2 separate regions of the Homo sapiens genome follow, and region 1 is linked to region 2. The links come from fine-mapping of genetic effects on gene expression. Tissue or cell type: whole blood. Region 2 holds a variant in brackets; the other region holds the start of a gene. All regions are shown on one strand. Distances are from middle to middle.

Evidence for each region. PIP is the estimated chance that this variant, and not a neighbour inherited with it, causes the effect.
Region 1: it holds the start of IATPR, and the variant in region 2 is fine-mapped to the expression of IATPR in whole blood (INTERVAL, PIP above 0.99). The same link has a PIP of 0.9 or more in Th17 cells.

The regions. Positions count from the first base shown.
Region 1 is chr10:33,113,029-33,119,207 of GRCh38, forward strand. It overlaps IATPR (ITGB1 adjacent tumor promoting lncRNA), which reads right to left and starts at 3,779. Exons shown (of 3, transcript NR_160030.1): 1 at 3,443-3,779.
Region 2 is chr10:33,070,515-33,078,782 of GRCh38, forward strand. All of the region lies in intron 2 of ITGB1-DT (ITGB1 divergent transcript), which reads left to right. IATPR (ITGB1 adjacent tumor promoting lncRNA) reads right to left here. Exons shown (of 3, transcript NR_160030.1): 2 at 4,348-4,469; 3 at 3,512-3,732. Among named protein-coding and RNA genes, the nearest start is that of IATPR, 42 kb to the right of the region's middle. RefSeq lists an enhancer at 5,415-5,916. The variant T/G (reference allele first, on the strand shown) is at 3,579.

The sequences.
Region 1 (6,179 bases), 41 kb after region 2:
TTAGGCCCAGATGACTCTTGGTCTCATGCTTGACACTTCTGTTACCTATTTGAGGCTTACTGTTCAAAATATTCATAGACTGTACTTAAGGTACCATGTGTTCCTTCTGGTAAATCAAAAGTAGTTTTTATGTTATATTTAGGGGCAGATTTCATCTACTAGCATAAAACATTATGATAAACTCTCCCCACCCCCTAACAAAGGCATTTCATTCCACATGTCGTGAGCAACTGCTTGCAGAGAACATGCACCATGTGAAAAAGTAATTATTGCCTTGCCTAAGGAATGAAGCTGACTCTATCAGCATGTCCAGGCTTTTGCAGATAAGTGAGCAAAACCATGGCTTACTAAGAACACTGCAATTTTTTTTTAACCTTTTGAAAATTCATTCTTTTCTAATGATTAGTTATGGGGAAAAGTGAGTTAAGTACTGCTTGACAGTTTGCTCTATAGAAGCTCTGTAATATCACCTCTCCTAGTCTTCTTTGATATAGAACCAACCATCTGTATCGATGACTTCTTTCCCTCTTTAATAAGTTGTAAATTGAACAGCATAATTCTTCCCATGTCCAAGACTAGTCAGCCAAAATACTGTGTTCGGAATTTGGCTGGCTGTATGTTATAACTTGTCTGTCATCACTTTCTTTCATTACAGCCCTGTGGTTGGTTTTTGTAGACTTTAAGGATCCGTTCGCTAGTGATTCATTTCATTTGGGTATATGCTACATGTTATTCTGTGCTTGTGTTAGACCAAAATGTCACATTCCACAAGTGTGTCCAGATGATCACTAAGCATTGGAAAGGAGTCAGTTTTGGAGTTGGCCGAGCTTCCTTCTATAAGACTTGTCTTTCAACAATTGATAAGGTTGATCAAATCTTTCAGCTTCGATCTGTTGTGTCCTTATTTCATAGAAATGGCCCATTTTTGAGTCTTAGAGTTTACTCTCTTTTTACTTGTGAATATATCTGAAATGAACACTTACTAAGACATAAATTCCAGTGAAAGAAGGGTCTTTCCTTTTGATTATCCTCTTTTAGAACTCTCCAGAAAAGGAATGGACAATCTTTTAAAGAGAGGCCTCTTTGTTAGTGGAAGTATTTATCAAGAGAATGGATTTCCACGTTAATCAGAGATTGCAATAGGAACTTCCTAAAACTCCTTCTGAAGTTAAGATTTCTTGAAACTCTTCTCAAACACTTGGTTTAATGTAGGGGGCGGCTAGAGGAAGTTGAATAAATATAAAGAGCAAGTTTTTGTTTTGTGATCATTATTTTTAGTTTTACTTGAAAAAGTAAAGGTGTTCTTCATTGGTTTTTGTTGAAAGAGTCCTACAGGATAAGGCTTTTGTTTTGGAACAAGAGAAGAGCGGTTGAGCTTGTTTGGTGTGTGGGAAACAATTTTAAAGTGTGACAGATATTTCTGTAGCAGATTCTTCTGCAGCAACAGCCAGAGACTGGTTTATTGTTTCAGTAGGGAAGTAGGTATCTAAGTCAAAGGTAAGATGGGGCAGATATGCAGATTGTCTCCTCATCTATTTACGAGGTAACCTTTTTCTAAAGCCAGAAAAAAACAGCTAATCGTTGCATCTTCTGGTTGAGGTGGTAAACAACTCAGTTATCAACCGGCAGAGCATAGCTGTTGGTTTATAATTCAAGTCAACCGTGCAGGAAGGAGGGAAGTAGAGGAGATGCAGTTTCATTTCCCATTAACTCCCCTGACCTGAATTAAGGTGGGAACTGAGGAGAACATCTGTAAAAATAACAGCATGCAAACTGTACAAGGACAGGGCCATGCCCAGTTAACCCGCTGTTTGAGGTCTAAATACTTTTTGGTTATTGTGCAATATGAGTAAAACATCCTCAGAGATGAATCATAGCTCTAGAATTTTAGATTATCACTGCATATGACAATATAAAAAAATCCATGCTCCATTACACCAATTTAATAAAGCAATGTGGCATCTACCTGCCTGAACACCAAAGACACGCAACCTTATGAAAAGAAAAAAAAAATCCAAATATTCATTCTTAGAGAATCACGATTTCATTGACTGGATCAGTGTCGGCTGCCTTCAGTATAAAAACAGGACAACTTTGAATATATCAGAGACTCTCCAAATATCATCATGGAGATTTACTAGGAGCCTTCATAAATATAGTGAGTAATAAAGCAATTTCTAGGGACTATATAGTAATCTTGAATTCTGTGATTCATATAAATGTGAATTATTAATAGAAAATAATCAAAATGATTTAATAAAAGTACATGTGTTCACATAGAAAGGGGGAAGAGAGGCCGGGAGTGGTGGCTCACGCCTGTAACCCCAGCACTTTGGGAAGCTGAGGCGGGTGGATCACGAGGTCAGGAGTTTGAGACCAGCCTGGCCAACATAGTGAAACCATGTCTCTACTAAAAATACAAAAATTAGCTGGGTGTGGTGGCCTGTGTCTGTAGTCCCAGCTACTAGGGAGGCTGAGGTGGGAGAACCCCTTGAACCTGGGAGGTGGAGGTTGCAGCAAGCCGAGACCATGCCATTATACTCCATCCTGGGAGACAGAGTGAGACTCCGTCTCAAAAAACAAAAGGGGGTGGGGGGTGGGGAAGACAGCACTGCTTAGATATTAGAAAAAATCTGAGATTTCATTGCTTTTTCTATAAGTTATAAGGTGATACCATGGAACTGTGGGCAAGTCCCTCAACAATCTAAGCTTCCATTTCTTGATCTCCAAAACAGTGGCACCGAGGTTTGCCTTGCTTACTGCCTTGAGAAGTTCAGGAGAGACAGTGCTTGTGAAAGTGTGAGTCAATTACTATTTGTTTTCTTGCATGTGGCTTGTAAGGAAGTCAGATAACATAAGAGAAGTGAGTGACTGAGTGTTAAAGTGAATTACCAAGGATGCTGGAACTTGAAATGCTTTTGTGTGTAGCAATGCAGGCCGAGCTGCCACGTGCTATCCTGTGTGTCCCCGCTCTCCCCGCGTTGCAAGCCCGCAGAATGCCCCGCATCCACTGAGCCGTGGCCAGCCCTACGGTGGGCAAGCCTATCAAGCGCAAACATTGGGAGGGTTCTGACTCTCAAGTGTCTTACAGAAAATAGAGCCAGGAGCTCCATCTGGCACTCCATTTGCTAAATGTCCCATTGATGTCAAACGCCAGGAAATGTGGCTGTTTAAAATCCCAGGGAATAAGATTTCCACTCAGCAGCTTTCTAATGTACGCGCAGCACTCTGCGAAGCAAAAGCCCTTGCTGAGCAGTCTGGTCACAGCCCCTTACACACAAGCTCTCTGGGCCTCCACTAAGAAGTACAAAGACACAGGGCAGAGGAAAATGGACTTATCAGCTCCAGTGGCTTAAAATATGCCGGATGCCAATAGAGGGCACTGTTGCATATCCACAAAAGCCCACGCTCCGCAACCTAGCAAGACCACCAAAGCACTCACCTCCTTCCACACTCTGGCTGCAGTCCTAATGATGAACAGGAGCGATTAAAGTGGCAATCCCACAAAACACGGCTTCTGGTCAAAGTTCATGACTGCTTCATCACCACTTTGATATTTGCAAAGGGGCTTCATGATCATTTTCAGTCCTGAGTCATCTCCAGTACTTTTCTGCAGAATGCTAGATCTCTTAGCTTCACTTTTCAGAAGACTGAAATCCAGAGAGGTTAACTAGATGACTTGAGCCCATTCAGTCCAGAACTAGACAGAGATAGAAAACTCAGGGTTCCTGAATTCTACGCTGGAGAGTTTTCAGAACGGTGCATTGCGAGCTTTGAATGAAAAACATCAACAGCCTGCATCCGCTCTTGACTCTTTAGGGGAGGTTGTATGGCTTGGTGATTAACTGGGACTTCACAGGCAGGACTCCTGTCCCCACCACCTCCTAATTGTCGTTTATCCCAGTGGAAGTTGATAACTGATAACCAAACCTGCAAGTGAGGCCCATTCTGCAGCCCAAGAAGGAGTTAGGGAGGGATAGGAAACAGACACATAAAATCAGGCCAAATAGTGAAACTGATTGGAGTGCTTTGGGGTATCAATGTTGTATCCTAATTGTCCTTTATCACAGTGGAAGTTGATAACTGGTAACCAAACCTGCAAATGAGGCCCATTCTGCAGCCCAAGAAGGAGTTAGGGAGGAATGGAAAACAGACACATAAAATCAGGCCAAATAGTGAAACTGATTGGAGCGCTTTGGGGTATCAATGTTGTATCCTTCAGCGATCCCTCTCAACTATTAGTTAACTGAGAACAGATTGCCCCGAACTTGGGAGCTGTCAGATCTGTTTCTTGCACTCTCCCACCATTGACCCCTGACTCCTACAGAATCTCATTTTGCATCCCACATTCTGAAGGCATTGAATCATTTTTTTTGGCTAAGCACATGTTGGCTCTGGAGTCGCCTATATACAGAGTCTTTGCTGCTGCATTTGAGGCCTGGTGACATGTTATATTATGTAATGTTCTGGCAGTTAAGGAAAACTCACGCCCTCCCTGTTATGTATGAAGTGTCATCTCTAAAGCAGAGACTATTTCTTGCAAAATGGCATTGATAAATGGATAAACGAAACCAACTGACAACATCCCCGTAACAATGCAGTATCCTTCACTGCCAGTTTATTTCTAGAACACCATTAGGCAAAAAAGAAGGCTTTGTGGCCTAAGTAGGTGTTTTCATATATTTCGGAATGACAAATTAAGACGACAAGGATTTTCAGTCAGGCCATGACAGTAAATGTGCGCTTGTCACTTGTTGTAATGCTGTCCGGCAGGCCATAAGGGCCAGGCTTTACTGCATGGCACATTGGGGAGCCAAATCTCTCTGGTGGCATCTTTCTGTCTGGCACCTCACTCAAGTTAGAAAACTCAACCTAGAAAAGACTGTTGGTCCCTACATGGGCAAGTGTTACTTTCGCTATTACTAAACCCTGTGCCAGTCTTGGGGCAGTCGGAAAGGGTGGAGGAAAACAGGGTGCTTTGATGGCTCTGGCCTGGTCTCAAGTGACACACCCTAATCTGAAGGGTTTGTGCCCACATCCTCTCCGCTGCAGCTGGGTGGCTGTTGGCAATCACCTTTGCAAGCACTTGTGTGTACCATGCCAGCGGTTGCTCGTGCCAATTAGAACTCAGCTGGATCTTGATATAAATGGGCCATAGGCTAATCGTTCTGGGATACATCTTAAATTAGTCTGAGAGAGTCAGAGACCACTGTAAAACCATTTGGCCCAGAGTTTGTGCAAGTTTCTCTGATCCAAAATGGCACCTTGGTATCCAGCTGTCTTGGATGCAGACAACTCTTTCACCTCGGGTCATCATCAAATGCCAAACACAAAAGAAATCCTAACCTCTCACTTTACACAAGAGGAGGCCAAGGCTCAGAGAATTGTAAAGACTTGCCACCAGGTTGTGGCAATGTGCAGTGAAGAACACAGTCTATTTCTGGCATCAGAAGGGCTCAAGTTTGGTTCTCCCAGGCACTGTTTGACAGAACCTCCCTGAGTCTTGGATTACTTTTTGTAACCTTCTGAGTTGTTGAGCAGGTGACATGCAGGAACACAGATATTTTAGTGTGCCCCCAATTGCCTGGGATACTGGTTAAATATGCAGATTTTTGGACCCCTGGCCCCCACCAGAGACTTGGATACAGTTTTTCAGGTTTGTTTTTTGTGGAACACTGTAGGGACAAATGGGAGTGTTTGCTGTGTCAGTGGCACAGCCTCTGATCCTTGTTCTATTCACTGTTCGCCTTCTAGTTTCAGCTCAGCTGTAGACAGATGCACTCCTGAGAATGTGACTGAACTTTACTAAGTAGGAATCACTGTAAACCTTATTCACCATCTACTCCACCCCCACCACTCGTCTTTTCTGGGTCACTACTTCTCCCTTGCGTCTAGTCAGCATATAGAAATAAAGATTGTGTCTACCTTTATTATACCCACTAGAAGGCCTGACATAGAAAATAAACGTGAGCCCATACCTATTATAGAGAGCAGAGGCCATTATGCCTTAACTTGCTATGTTCTGTTGCTACCATAGAACTGGACAAAGATGGAACTTTCATTCTAGTGGCTGGTCCATGGAGATATTCTGTGGTATTCAAAAAATCTTGGGGCATCTTTAGGGTCTAACACTTCCATTATTCATGCAATGTGACGCACTTGTATTTGGCATTTAAGTA
Region 2 (8,268 bases):
TTTCATCTTAACTAATTACATCTGCAATAACCTTATTTCCAAATAAGGTCACATTCCAAGGTACTGGGGGTTAAAACCTCCACATCTTCTTGGGGGACCCTTAAGAGATGGTGACTTTTCTGTCGCCATCTTTCACATCTGTCACTTGCATCTATTAACCTCTTTCCTGGGGCTGAGACTAGAGTGAAACAAATGAGAACTCATGGGGAACAATAAATTTAAGGGGACATAAAGTAGCTCAGCAGTCAAGATAAATTATATTTTAAATGAAGTGGGTTTTTAAATATATATATATTGTGTCTTTTTTTGGTCAGTTTTTTAGTGTTTTTAATTTTTTTTTTTATTTTTGAAGCAGAGCCTCACTTTGTTGCTCAGGCTGGAATGGAGTGGTACAATCATGGCTCACTGCAGCCTCCATCTCCCAGACTCAAGGGATCCTCCAGAGCCTCAGAGTCCAGATTAGCTGGGACTACAGGCATACATATGCCTGGCTAATTTATATATGTTTTTTGTATAGATGGGGTCTCTCTGTATTGCCCAGGCCTCAATCAGTTCACCCACCTTGGCTTCACAAAGTGTTGGAATGACAGTCATGAGCCACTGCACCCAGCTGTGAAATGTTTTTAAATGTAAAAGTCAATGGGAAAAAATCCATGATGAACAAAATATTAACGTCATAAAGAAAGGCAGGATCTGCCCTCACGCTTGCACGGTGGAGCCTCTCTCATCTCATCCCGTCTTTGCCTGCCCCAACATTGGCTTAATGGGGACTGAGCAAACCAAGGCCCACCCCGCCCCCTGTAGCTGGGACCCTTACCTCTTGTTACCCTTGACTATAGTTTCTTTAACTTCAGAACACAACCAAAGATGCTTTGTTGGATTTTGGAATTCAGAAGGCTTGTTTAACACTAGGTTTGAACCTTATTAATTTCCTACTTCAGTGATTCTCTGCCAAGTCTTTTATACTCCTCTCAAGCTCTGTGTTTGATTAGAATACTTTCATTCCTTGAACTCAGACACTTCTTGGAGGGGGATCTTGCTGATTAGTTTGATGTCATGTGGCCCTGTCAACATTCCTTCATCTTTGCTGTTTTTTTTTTTTTTTTTTTTTTTTTAAATACCAAATGAAGGTGCACTTAGGTACGGAACTCTCTCTCTGGGTGGTGCTCCTTCCCTGGTCTCCTGTAGGGTTGGACCGGAACGCTCTCGGTGTTCACTTCTAGGGTCAGAACACATCTGGAGCAGGATTATGAAGCAGCATTTCCCCTGCAATCTGTCAAACTCGCCAACAACTAGAGAAATCACCCTGATTCCTGAGAGAGATTACCAGGAAGCCTTTTTCAGGGGCAGACGGGGTTATTTTGCCAGTGTAGCAGAAAAAAGGTAAATAACAGGTGTAAACCAAAAATAAAATTCTAAGCCTCCAGAATGACTAAATGGATCTCCCTCTTGGCCGAGGCATTCCAAAGTAAACCTGAAAAACTAGTTCAAGCTGTGATGGGAAGAGGGGCTTGTTGGATAGACCTCCTTATGCCCTCCTCCCTTTGGAATTCAGGCTCAACTGACCAGGGTTAACATTAAAACAGAGATCTTAGGACTGACAAAGCAGACTCTTTGTAGTGGGAAGACACCAAATTCCAACCTGACTCTAGTATAGCATCATAGGACAGATGGCAGGCCCTGAAAGACACTGAAGTATTTTACTCCAAAATAGATTTCTTTGACATCTTTTTAAATGGCCCTGAAAAACTGTCTTTTGTGAGGAAATCTACATTCTGTAGAGAATCCTCTTCCCTTTCTAGGTCTTTACCTCATCTGGGAGATATTTAACTAAGGGTTCGGCAAGTTTTTAGGTCTGATAAAAGACATTTGTTCTCTATTCTCTCTACAGCCTAGAGGCTTCATTTGCATAATGAAATCCCTGGTCTTCACAACCCCTTATCTTAACCTAGAAGACTTTCCTTTCTGTTGATTCCAGGTCTTTGGATAATAACTTAACGCTTTCAACTGATTGGCAATCAGAACATTTTTGAATCCACTATGACCTGGAAGCCATACCCACTCTCCCAGCCTGTCCCCCACAACTGCTTCCAGACCCAACCAATGTACACCTTACATGTATTAATTGATGTCTGCCTACAACTTCTGTCTCTCTAAAAGATATAAAATTAAGCTGTAACCCAACCACCTTGGGCACATGTTCTCAGGACCTCTTGGGGCTGTGTCACGGGCCTTGGTCACTCATATCTGACTCAGAATAAAGCTTCTGAAATATGTCACAGAGTTTAACTCTTTCCATTGACACAGGTGAGTTTGTGTTGCCCACTGCTTGTTATGTGTTACAGTAAGAACGAGATGATCCATTTGCAGAGCTTTGCCTTTTCTGTGGCCAGGTGGGCAGCTGAAGAGACTTGACATGTAGGCCAGTCATTCCATCTGTTCCCAACTCTTTCAGCCTCCTTCTGGGATCCTGTTTTTCCTGCCATCACCCAGCTGAACCCAGACTTTATTCTTTTATAACACACCCCCAGCACACAAATTTATGCACCTACACCAAATTCACTTGCCAGCCACCTCGTTCAATAGCTGTGAATATTTCTGTAGCCTCTTTCTTTTGTGAACTGCAAATAATGACCAGCCTAGTCTCTATGGTTATATTTAGGGGGAAAAGATTCTCTGTAGTAGATTTCTTTTATTAATTAATGTTCTATTTTTTCCATTCACTGATACCCTACATTTTATAGCTTCTAGGAAAATTATACTTGGTACAGTACTTTGACCCTAAATGTGTCCATGTGCAGGAAATAGTACAGTAATTGACACCCAGTTAGTGTTTAGTTAATCGTAGTTCTAAATTATGTGTCTAATGAAGAAAATTTGGAAATCACTTTGCTTAAGAATAAGGAAGTTTTGCAGGGCAAATGTATTAGTCTGTTCTCACGCTACTAATAAAGACATACTGGAGACTGTGTAATTTATAAAAAAAGAGGTTTAATGAACTCATGGTTCCTTATGGCTGGGGAGGCCTCACAATCATGGCGGAAGATGAAGGAAGAGCAAAGGGACTTCTTACATGGCAGCAGGCAACAGAGCTTGTGCAGGAGAACTCTTGTTTATAAAACCATCAGATCTCGTGAGACTTCACTCCCTATCATGAGAACAGCATGAGGGTAACCACACCCATGATTAAATTACCTCCCACTGGGTCCCTGCCACGACAAGTGGGGATTATGGGAACTACAATTCAAGATGAGATTTGGGTGAGGACACAGCCAAACCATATTAGCAAACATTTGAGCAAATGTGCTATCAACATTAAGAAGACCAACATCTAGGAGGCAGCACAGAGCTAATGCAAGAGCATTACACTTGGAGTCAGGATTGCTAAGAGCTCCTTGCAGATCTGCTACTGGGTGACTTGCAGATCTGCTACTGGGTAACTTCTCTGGGCCTCAGTTTCCTCATGTGTAAAACCAAGAGGACTGGCAGAAACACTAGCGGAGAGCCCTTCCGGCTCTAAGTCTGTGACACTTTGATGGCTCTTGTTCCTGGATGAAGGGACACCACTGGGAGAAATT[T/G]CTTCCTCCATAAGTCAACAAATTGGAATTAAAGTGCCTATGATTCCCTCCGTGAAGTTCGGTGCTGCCAACGATCACGATTCTCATGAACTCAATAAATTGTGCAATATTCTGGAAACAGCTGCCTCTCAGGGGTGGTGTTTAAGTCATCCAACTGGGAAAACAGAGGACACAAAATAATCGTAAAATGGTTTCAGGGAGACATAAGACTGACAGAAATAGAATCCCTGCTCTTTCTGGAATCGAACACTGCTGTTGCACCACAATTTCTGTGAGTTGGACCTAAAAGGAATGTCTTTACTTTTCAGGACTTGCTTTTTGTTCCTTAAAGAGCCAGGGAAATATGAAAGCAATCGATTTCTTCAGAATTCCAAAAGAAAGATATTGCTGTTTGCAAGACAAAGAAAAAAATTAAATGGAGATGGCAGCCTGTGTGTGCTGTTCCCTTCAGCAACGAGCAAACTGTGACCCAATTTGCAAGCCCTTGCAGGTTTGCAGGGTAGACCCTGGCGCTATCTCTTCCCATTAGTTTCTCTGGCAGTAGGACTGGCTGGGAGAAATTGGCTCAGTAGTACATCAGTAGTTATATTACACAGCAGCTGTGGAAAATTATTAAACTAACAGAGAGACAAATGGCTTGGGAGAGAATAAAGTTAGCAAGTCTGGAAACCCCCATTACAGTACATTATGTTGAGTTCCTTCTCCCTCTAGATTAAGACCCTGGTTCCTAAATGAGAATCCAAATTACAGCTAAACTTACTTTACTTACCTGTCTTCTTTTAAATTTGTTTCTCATTTTTCTTTGGCCAGTTAGAGATCATAGAACACTGTCCCATCTTATGCCATTTCTTTCCTCTTTGGTCTTGGACCATCTCTTCCTCTGTGCTGTCACTGGAGATATACAATTACACACGTTCAATCTCATGTGTTCCTCATACACACACACACTCATGTGGATACCCTGATATTCACTCTGCACACACATGCTCACATGCAAACACACCCTGTCTCACACACACTCATGGATGTGCACACACACTTTTGCACAATTTTTTTTTTTGAGATGGAGTCTTGCTCTGTTGCCCAGGCTGGAGTGCAGTGGCAGGATCTCGGCTCACTGCAACCTCCACCTCTCAGGTTCAAGTGATTCTCCTGTCTGAGCCTCCCTAGTAGCTGGGATTATAGGCTCGAGCCACCACGCCCAACTAATTTTTGTATTTTTAGTAGAGACAGGGTTTCACCATGTTGGCCAGGCTGGTCTTGAACTCCTGACCTCAAGTGATCCGCCTACCTCGGCCTCCCAAAATGCTGGGATTATAGGCATGAGCCACTGTGCCCGGTACATTTGCACACATTTTTGAGACTCCAGTGTCTGGGCTCTGGTTGAAAGGCCACTCTGAATTTTTTTCCACTCTCTGTGGTAGTTGGAACTATGTCTACTCCCAAGAGTTCAGACCACTCTGTTGAGAGTTCAGCATGTTTGTAAATGTAATTGGTTTATTAAACGGTATGAATTTAGTGAGAAACACACAAGAAGTATTTATTTTTCCTCCAAATGCAACCTTACAATATGTTCTGTTGAATCTGCATTTCATTTCTCTTAATGATAGGTCCCACAGCTTCTCGGTTATAATGCGGTTGGGGACCAGGCGCGGTGGCTCATGCCTGTAGTCCCAGCCACTCAAGAGGCTGAGGTAGGAGGATTGCTTGAGCCCAGGAGTTTGAGGCTGCAGTGAGCTATGATTGCACCACTGCACTCCAGCCTGGGTGACAGAGGGAGCCTGTCTCAAAAAAATAAAATAAAATGCAGTCGGGTCCAGATCAAAACTTAAATTTCTGGTCAGATTAGTGCTCATGTCCTTCTCCAAGAGCTGCCAGGCACGGAGAGTCTTGTCTAGAGGAGAGAGGAGTGGTTGGCTTTTTTATTTCTTTCACCTTCTGCTTATAGCCGCTGTGTAGTTGACATGAAACAAAGTGATTAGAGAAAAGGGACAAATGCTTTTATTTAGCTGCTGTTGTTGGAGCTCTCTCGGCTGTTTTTTTTTTTTAGATGGAGTCTCACTTTGTCGCCCAGGCTGTAGTGCAGTGGGGCAATCTCGGTTCACTGCAACCTCCACCTCCCGGGTTCAAGCAATTCTCCTGCCTTAGCCTCCCAAGTAGCTGGGACTACAGACACCTGCCACCATGCCCGGCTAATTATTGTATTTTTAGTAGAGACGGGGATTCGCCATGTTGACCAGGCTGGTCTTGAACTCCTGACCTCAAGTGTTCCGCTCACCTAGGCCTCTCAAAGTGCTGGGATTACAGGCTTCAGCCACTGCTCCCGGCCTTTCCTGGCTGTTGATGTCTGTAGATGGAGGCATCAGAAACCTGACTCTCCAGGTGGGTCACAGGTGGGTGCTTTGGAGGGTGATGTGCTTGCCTCCCCATGTATAGTTTGCTGATGTGGGGAGCTCATCTGGCTTGATGTTTCTGGCTGCACCACTCAGCCCCCATGCCCCCTGGCATGCTCACAGCAAGTGTGGCTTAGGTATTGTCCTGGGAAGCCTGGTCAGAGCTTTCCCCATTCTACAATGTCCAGGGCAGCTCTCACCTCCTGGCCATGCCATGGGGTGGGGTGTAGACCTTGTTACTGCTGCCCTCTGTTCTTCATGAAGAGCAGAGGAGCAGGTCTGCTGTAACAGAGGCTGTCCACCTGAAGACTGCCTGCCAGTGAGTCTTGCCTTCACCCCTATTCTTCACAAATGATCCTTTGGAGCCCCCCTGTATGTGGCTTTTGGGAGGGCATACCCATGTCAGGCAGAATTGTAATCCAGCCCCAAGATGCCTGCCCCTGATGTGGACACCTTGCACAATCCCCAAGATTACAATTATGATGGACTCAGCTCCTGCAATAGGTCCCTGACATATGGCACTGTCGACTTTAATAAAGGGATATTATTGGTCGGGGGTGGTGACTCATGCCTGTAATCCCAGAACTTTAGAAGGCTGAGGTGAGTGGATCACAATGTCAAGAGATCAAGACCATCCTGGCCAACAAGGTGAAACACCATCTCTACTAAAAATACAAAAATTAGCTGGGCATGGTGGCACGCACCTGTAGTCCTACCTATTCGGGAGACTGAGGCAGGAGAATCGCTTGAACTTGGGAGGTGGAGATTGCAGTGAGCCGAGATCACCCCACTGCACTCCAGCCTGGTGAAACAGTGAGACTCCGTCTCAAAAAAAAAAAAAAAAGAAAAAGAAAAAAAAAAGAAAGAAAGAAAGAAAGAAAGAAAGAAAGAAAGAAAGAAAGAAAGAAAGAAAGAAAGAAAGAAAGGGATATTACGGAGGGTGGGTCTGACCTAATCAGGAAAGTGCTAAAAAGGGGCTGGGCTCTTCCTGGAAAGGGATTTGAAGCATGAGAATCATTTAACTTGGGAGCTTTGCTGGCTTTGAAGATGGAGGGGTCATGTGGTGAGGAATGTGGGTGCCCTCTAAGAGCAGCCCCTGACTGACAGTCAGCAAGGAAGTGGAAACCTCAGTCCTATAGCTACAAGGAACTGAGTTCTGCCAATAACCACAAGAAGCTGGAAGAGGACTTGGAACATCAGGTGTGAACCCAGCCAGCCAACAGCTTGGTTCCAGCCTTGTGGCACCCTGAACGAGAACCCAGCTACATGGTGCCTGGACTTCTTAGCTACCGAGCCGTGAGCTGGTGAATTCATGTTGTTTTAAGCCACTAAGTTGGTGCCAATTGTTAGAAAGCAATAGAAACTGAAGAGTACATTGCCCCTTCACCTGCTAGTGGGGAAGAGAGAGAAAAGGCCCCAGCACCTTTCATCTAAGTCAACAACTCCCAATTCCAACTAGTTTTTTGCAAATATGATCTGGGGGCAAATGGTGGATTGATTGTAGCAGGGTCAAATAGCCTTGGAGAAGTGTCTGGCTTCCATCCAAGTCAATTATCTTTAGGGGCCGTTAGTATTACTGTTTTCAACCTTGGGTTTTTGGCCACAATTCCCAGACAACAGAAAAAGTCCTGTTCAACATCCTGCTACCCATGAGAAAAGCAGTGGTCCCAATACCTTTATTCTTTTATAATCACGATGTTGAACAAGTATGGCTTCAGGGTGTAATTATTAAGTCATTTTATTTTTGTCTCCTATAGCTCCTTTGTGCTGTGGAGCTAATTAGTCTCTTGCTCCTGGATCACCATGACTTTTATGGTCACCTTCAGGGAATGAGAAGTCTTCTAATCAGTAATTAATGTCTCATTCAGAGACATCACCAAAACTTGCCACTTCATTCAAGGTTACAGCTATACCCTTTTCCCTACCATTGTAGGTGCTGAGAGGGAGGGGAGTGGTTGACTTTGATTTTCTCCAACTTGAGCTTTGATTTGCCAGCCACATCCCCCGACACTCTGGTTTTCTATCTCTGTGAGATTAGAGGAGAGGAGAGAGGACAAGGAAGGGAATGCCCCAGGCTTGTCTTTACCGAAGGTAAAACATCACCCACATAGGGTATCTCTAGAGAACCCATGAGAGCCCTCATCAGTCACTGTAAACCGTCAGAGCCCAGAGAGTGAGAGGCCAGCCTAGGACAGATTCAGTCACGTGGAGCTTTCCTTCTCCTTCCTTCCTTGTCCATTTTTCATTTATTTGGCCCCGTCTGCTGGAGTGTCTCCGTGCTCCTGCCCTAAATGTTC